Homo sapiens: one gene and its partner. The protein of the gene in region 1 purifies or fractionates together with the protein of each later gene. This does not show direct contact. Each region holds a gene or a part of one and is shown on either strand. Other genes may lie near its edges. The genes, in order: ZNF146 and TIPRL.

Evidence for each region.
Region 2: the proteins of ZNF146 (region 1) and TIPRL purify together in Homo sapiens (affinity purification with mass spectrometry, with the first as the bait; one large-scale study listed by BioGRID). This does not show direct contact.

What each region holds. Positions count from the first base shown.
Region 1 is NC_000019.10:36,221,442-36,225,265, forward strand, and holds part of ZNF146 (zinc finger protein OZF), read left to right. Parts: intron 1-3,824.
Region 2 is NC_000001.11:168,192,175-168,195,998, reverse strand, and holds part of TIPRL (TIP41-like protein), read right to left. Parts: intron 3,792-3,824; coding exon of another isoform or gene 3,771-3,791; exon of another isoform or gene 3,604-3,770; intron 1-3,603. UniProt on the Homo sapiens protein: May be a allosteric regulator of serine/threonine-protein phosphatase 2A (PP2A). Isoform 1 inhibits catalytic activity of the PP2A(D) core complex in vitro. The PP2A(C):TIPRL complex does not show phosphatase activity.

The DNA of each region.
Region 1 (3,824 bases):
CCACGCCCGGCTAATTTTTTGTATTTTTAGTAGAGACGAGGTTTCACCATGTTAGCCAGGATGATCTTGATCTCCTGACCTCGTGATCCACCCGCATCAGCCTCCCAAAGTACTGGGATTACAGGCTTGAGCCACCGTGCCTGGCCAAGGCACTACTTTTTAAAAAATGAATTTGATTACTATTGAAGTAAGTAATGCATTTCTGTGATTCAACAAAGATCTATCTCACAGAGATATCTCATTCTGCTCCCTTCCCCCAGTCACATTCTTCTTTGTCTTATGTAAACATGTCTTGTTTTTTTTTGTTTGCTTCTTGTTTATCCTTCAAGTGGGTTTTTTGTTTTTTGTTCTGTCACTATTATATATTTCTCTTCACTCCTGTTTCCCTCCACCTTACATAAAAGATAGCATACCACATGCACCTCCCTATATCTCACTTTCTTTAATAACAGTATGTCCTAGAGATAGCCCTTCCTTTTTTCTTTCTTTTTTTTTTTTTTTTTTTTTTGAAATAGTCTCGCTCTGTCACCCAAGCTGGTGTGCAATGGTGTTAACATGGCATACTGCAGCCTCCAACTGCTGGGCTGAAGTGATCTTCCTGCCTCAGCCGCCTGTGTAGCTGGGACCACAGGCACACTCCACCACACCTGGCTTTTTTACTTTTTGTAGAGATGAGGTCTCACTGTTTCCCAGATTGGTCTCGAACTCCTGAGCTCAAGCAGTCCTCCTCTCTTGGCTTCCCAAAGTGTTGGGATTACAAGTGTGAGCCACTGCACCCAGCCAAGGTGTTCCTTCTTAATCATAATCTTTAAAAGAAATTTTTTTTTCAGCTGCTGTATAAATAAGATGTCATTATTTGGATGCACCATGGTTGATTCAGTTAATCCCGTTGTTGAGCATTTGGATTGTTTCCAGTCTTCTGCTGTTGCTAACAATGCAGTAATGAATAATTTTTTTATGTGCGCCATTTTATACTGACACAGGAGTAGCTCTAAACTAGACTGCTATTAATACAAATGGCGCTGCCCAGTGGGTAAGTACTTACACTCCCACAAGCCATGTGCGAGAGCGTCTTCCCCTTAAACTCACCATGAGTGTAGTGTCGAATATTTGGTATTTCGCTAGGGACATAAGAGACAATCTGAACTTCAGTGTAGGTTTCATTTACATCCCTTCTTATGAATGAGAATTTTTTTTTATATGTTTAAAGGCCTGTATGTATTAATCTAGGAACTGTCTATTCATATCCTTTTCACCATTTTTCTATGGGGTGTCTTCTCCTTAGAGGAGCTGTTTATAAATTAGAAAGGTTAGCCCTGTATGAAATGAGTGGTGGCTTTTTTTTTTTTTTTTTTTGAAGTTTTCATTTGCATTTGGACATTGTTCACAGTGGTTTCTTTTTTTTTTAATCTTGCAGAAATAAGAGGTTTTGTTTTAATTTAGTAATAATAGTTTCTTTTTTTACATAGCCGTGCTTAGAATGAGCCCCCTGTGGTTGGTGAGCACAGAGACATCCCCGCACCACACCAAAGACCTTTTTATTCATGTATTTTTTAGAGGCACAGTCTCACTGTGTTGCACAGGCTGGCCTTGAACCCCTGGGCCCAAGCAAGTCTCAGACTCCCAAGTAGCGGGGACTACAGGCAGTGCACCACCATGCTGCTATGGTTTTCTTTTTATTTTCAAAACTTTTGGCTGGGCGCGATGGCTCACGCCTGTAATCCCAGCACTTTGGGAGGCTGAGGCGGGTAGATCACTTGAGGTCAGGAGTTTGAGACTAGCCCGGTCAACATGGTGAAACCCCGTCTCTACTAAAAATACAAAAAATTTAGCCAGTCATTGTGGTGCACGAGATCACACCACTGCACTTTAGCCTGGGCAACAGAGTGAGACTCCGTCTCAAAAAAAAAAAAAAATCTAGTTACATTTTTTTCTTTTTGAGATGGAGTATCTCTCCGTCCCCCAGGCTGGAATGCAGTGGTGCGATTTCGGCTCACTGCAAGCTCCGCCTCCCGGGTTCACGCCATTCTCCTGCCTCAGCCTCCCAAGTAGCTGGGACTACAGGCGCATGCCACCACGCCTGGTTAATTTTTTCGTATTTTTAGTAGAGACGGGGTTTCACCATGTTAGCCAGGATGGTCTCGATCTCCTGACCTCGTGATCCGCCCGCCTCGGCCCTCCAAAGTGCTGGGATTACAGGCGTGAGCCACCGCGCGTGGCTGATTCATCAGTCTTTTATGGTTATCAGACTTTTCCACTCTTAAGTTTCACCGATATTTTCAAATTCTTATAAAGTTACAGTTTTTTGTTGTTTGATTGTTTTAGAGTTGGATCTTGATCTGTCACCCAGGCTGGGGTGCAGTGGCGTGATCACAGCTGACTGCAGCCTTCATATCCTCGCTAATTTAAAAAAAAAAAAATTGTAGAGATAAGATCTCCCTGTGTTGCCCAGGCTGGTCTCAAACTCCTGGGCCCAAGTGATCCTGCTACCTTGGCTTCCCAAGTCAGAGCAATAGTTTTTTTAAGATTTTGTTTTTATTTTAATTTATAATCCATTTAGATTTTATCCTGGTGTATGCTATCAGATATGCATCCAGCTTTACCTTTTTCCAATTGGCTACCACGTTCTTTGACATCATTTATTAAAAGGTCTTACCTGGCTGGGCACGGTGGCTCACGCCTGCAATCCCAGCACTTTGCAAGGCCAAGGTGGGTGGATCACTTGAGGTCAGGAGTTCGAGACCAGCCTGGCCAATATGGAGAAACCCTGTCTCTACTAAAAATACAAAACATTAGCTGGGTGTGGTGGCACATGCCTGAATCCCAGCTATTCGGAGGCTGAGACAGGAGAATCGCTTGAACATAGGAGGGCGGAGGTTGCAGTGAGCTGAGATTGTGCCACTGCACTGCAGCCTGGGCAACAAGAGCCAAACTCCATCTCACACACATTAAAAAAAGGTCTTATGTTTACTATTTTTAGGATGCCACTTTGATTATATACTAAATTCTCACATTTATTTGGTCTGTTTCTGGGTGTGAGCAGAAAGACTGAGGACACTGCTATAGCCCAGGTGTAACAACCAGGGAAAATATTTATCTTTTTACTATTGAGGCTTTATCATTGTGTTTTACTTTGTGGTATAGCTAGTCTCTTAATTGCTCGTCCTTTTCAGTGTTTCCTGGCTATTCTTGCCTGTTTATTTTTCTTTGTAAATTTTAGGATTAGCTTGTCTCGTTCCAGAGGGGGAAAAGGTAGAACTAGTTTGTTACTTTTATTGGGATTGCATTAAATTTATAAAATAACTTGGGAATAGGGACATTTTTATGACATTAAATATTCCTCTTTATGTACGTGATACGTATTCTCGTTTCTTTTTGGGTCCTCTAGGGTGTTTTAAAATTTTTTTCATACAGGTTTGGACACTTCTTACTAAGTTTATTTCTGGATGTTTTGTTTTATGTTGCTATGAATGGAGTCATTGTTGGCATATATGAAGCTGTTGATTTCTACATACTAATATTATTCCCTGCTTTCCTTAGTTATTTGTAATTAGATTATATAATTGAGGCAGTAGGCATCCTTGTCTGTTTAGAATCTAATAGAAATGCCTTCAGTGTTTTTCTATTACTTTTATTATCATGATTTGCTTTTCAGTGTTTTTACATTAGATAAGATACTGGCTTTTGTGGTCAGATACAGATTATGATTATATAAATATAGATTACCCATGCTGCCTGGGTCAGTGGGAGTGTGAGCAGAAAGACTGAGGACACTGCTAATAGCCAAGGTGCAACAACCAGGGAAAATCTGTTGATTGAGGAAA
Region 2 (3,824 bases), on another chromosome or scaffold:
CTTTCCAAGTATAACTACTAATGATAGGCAGAATCAGTGGAGAAAGTATGAAGGTGGGTCCTGGTGGCGGGGAGAGAGCGGTTGAATGGAATGTGAGGTATTTGGGTCTTTAAAATGAATATGTTTAGCTGGCATGGTGGCTCACACCTATAATCACAGCAGTTTGGAAGGTTGAGGTGGAAAGATCACTTGAGCCCAGGAGTTCAAGACCAGCCTGGGCAACAGAGTCAGACCCCATCTCTACAAAAAATACAAAAAATTAGCAAAGCACGGTGGCACAAGCCTGTAGTCCTAGCTACGTGGAAGGCTAAGCTGGGAGGATGGCTTGGGCCTGGGAGATAGGCTGCAGTGAGCCATGATTGTAACACTGCACTCCAGCCTGGGCAACAGAGCAAGACCCTGTCCCAAAATTAATTAATTAATTAAAATGAATATGCTTGGCCATTTGCTGAATAAATACCTATTGTCTACTAACACCAAGTTCTTACTATAGTAAGTCTTGGATTTATATAAATGAAAAAATAGAATCCCAATGCTCAAAAAGGTTATCAGCCAGGGAAAGGTCAAACAGATGTGGTAGCTGCTATAATGGGTATGCACAAGGCTCAATAAGCATTTGAGAAAGAAGTACCTAAGTCTGCTGAAGAACATCAGATAAGACAAGGCTTGAGCTGACCACAGAAAGAACAGCTAGAGATGGGAAGGAGAATTTCAGAAAGGGGACCTGCATGTACAAAAAGTACTGAGACATGAAATAATAACATATATTCAGGGAACTGCCTATAATCTTACATATAAGCACAGGGCTACATTAATGATGAAAGAAGAAATAACAGGATAACCCAGTAATGACAGTGACTTAACTGCCTGGAGAGTCACCAGCCACAGGCCAAATTCTTTTCTGCCTTGGGACCATTACACACCCTCTTCCCTTACCTGGAGTATTCTCCCGGCTAATGTTCACTTGTCCTTCAGATTTCAGTACACATGTCACTTCCACAGAGGGGCCTTTCTTACCATTCCATACCACAATAGATTTATCTTGGTATTCTCTCTCATAGCACTCCATTACGAATTAACGGATTTGTAACTATCTTCATTTATGTTTCCACTTGACTGTAGGCTCCATGGTGGTGGAAATATCTGCTTTGTTCATCACCACATCTCTATTGCTTAGAAAAGTACCTAGCACACAGCAGGTGCTCATTAACCATTTTCCGGATAAAACTGAAGCTAGAAGGTATTAATACCTTTGCTGGAGAAAAGGCTCTGAGCCAAAGTGTATTCTGATGGGGTTATCAGCAACAGACTTAAAAAAAAGACTTTTAGTAAAGGAAAGCTGTAGAAATAACCTGACTTATGACAACTTGATGTCACAACAAATTGAGAAGCACATCATTATTATTTGACATTACTACACAGTGATATGTGTAATTTATGGAAAAACTGACTTGCAACATTTCTTCAAATTTCAAAATTAGTTACCAACAGTCACACTGGACACAACACAGGCAGTAAACTGAAATATCATTTTAGCATGGCACAGTGGAGAGAGTAGGAATTAGGAGACCAGAACTCTAGTGCCAATACAATAGCATATTTTAGGGCAGTAGTTCTTTCCTAGGGGACGTTTGGGAATTTGTGAGAGTACTTTTTCTTGTCACATCAATAAGCAACCAATATCAACAGTTAGTGAATAAGGACCAGAACGACAGATCTGGGATGCACAGGACAATCCTATACAACAAAGTCCAGTCCTGCATTCCACAAAACTTGCAGTATCTTACCAGGCATTCACAGAGGTGAAAAAGCCTACTTATAATGATCTGACTTTAGAAACTATTTCCATTTTACATAGATAATAAAAAAAAAATCACTCAATTATCCAGGAAGTCAACTATTTTCCAAATCAAGGAAAGATTATACTTTTTCTTATTTAGAACTTCACTAAGAGTTGTTCATCATTTTGGAAAATTGTGTTAAGAGTCACTGATTGATACCTTACATCTCTGTCAGCCTACATTTTTTGCTGTCACATTTACGGTGACTCAATATGCAAATATAAGTACCTGACTGCTTCATTATGTCTTTGGTGCAGTCATATTATGCATTTAAGTATTAAAATATATTTTATTCTAAACCAATTTCCTTTAATTTTATAGTTAAAATATGTTGATTGCTGCAAAGTAGGTGGATTAAATCATCTACAAATTTCACTACAGGATAGTAATATCTATGAACTAATACTTCAGCTTAAAGTAGTTGGTTAAAAAAATGCTCTTCAGTTTAAGACTTACTATGTATTCTTGTACACACATATTTATACACATATCCTTTCAAGCAACTCCATCCACAAAACCACATGTGCTTTCCAAATACCGACCCACTTATAGACATGATATATATACCCCCTTGGATACAAATGCACACCCAGGTATGCAAACTCATAATGAACATTTAGCATAGTCAATTCAACAGGTGGTAGACAAGTGGAAAGATACAAGACTAGGTGAACTGAAGAGAGAATAAATCTAAACAAAAAAAAGTGAATTTAGAGTTATAAGTGAGCAAAGAAGTAAAGCCTATGAAAACAACTATCTAATGCTAGAATAATGATATATATTAGATGATACAAAGAAAACTTTGCAATTAGTTTCATGACCTTAAGCTATCTTTTTAGGCCTTATCTATAAAATATGGAGGCTACAAAAAATGATTCTCTAAAAATTCACTACAATTTCAAAATCCTTTGATTCCACCGAAAAAACTAATTTTATTTTTAGATAAGAAAAATAAAATTTTTTATTTATCTAAAAATAAAATTATTTTGTCTCCCAAGCTGGGGTGCAGTGGCACCATCATAGCTCACTGTAGCCTTGACCTCCTGGGCTCAAGCAATCCTCCTGCTTCTGCCTCCCAAGTAGCTAAAATTTGACTTTAAAACAAATCTGTTGCTGCTTTTGTATTATTTTCATTCTTTAAATCACAGCATCCACAATCATTATGCCCCAAGAACAATGTTTGATGTTAGGGTCTCTGTCTTTGACAGATCTCATGACAAATGCTATAATTGAGAGGTTTTTTGTTTGTTTTGTTTGTTTGTTTGTTTGTTTTGAGACGGAGTCTCGCTTGTTGCCCAGGCTGGAGTGCAGTGGCACGATCTCGGCTCACTGCAAGCTCTGCCTTCCGGGTTCACGCCATTCTCCTGCCTCAGCCTCCCGGGTAGCTGGGACTACAGGCGCCCGCCACTGCGCCCAGCTAATTTTTTGTATTTTTAGTAGAGACGGGGTTTCACCATGGTCTCGATCTCCTGACCTCGTGATCCGCCCGCCTCGGCCTCCCAAAGTGCTGGGATTACAGGCATGGGCCACCGCGCCCGGCCTAATTGAGAGGTTTTTAAAAAGGAGTATAGAAAAGAGATATTTAACTCTGTGTAACGGAGTTGTGAAGGGCCTTGTAGAAAAGGTGGTATTTTAGCTGGGTCTTTGGGTCTTAAAGAATGAGGCATTTAGTAAAAAGTTTCAGTTGAGTTATTTCTGGAAAGTATTAGAGACCCAATTATAATGCAGTGGTAAAGAAATATGAATAACCATACTTGTTATGTGTGTTTTCTACTTCTTTTATTTTATTTTATTTTTTTTTTTTGAGACGGAGTCTTGCTCTGTCGCCCAGGCTGGAGGGCTGGAGTGCAGTGGTGCGATCTCAGCTCACTGCAAGCTCCGCCTCCCGGGTTCACGCTTCTCCTGCCTCAGCCTCCCGAGTAGCTGGGACTACAGGTGCCCGCCACCAGGCTGAAAATTGAAGTGGTAGTTGAATGATGCACT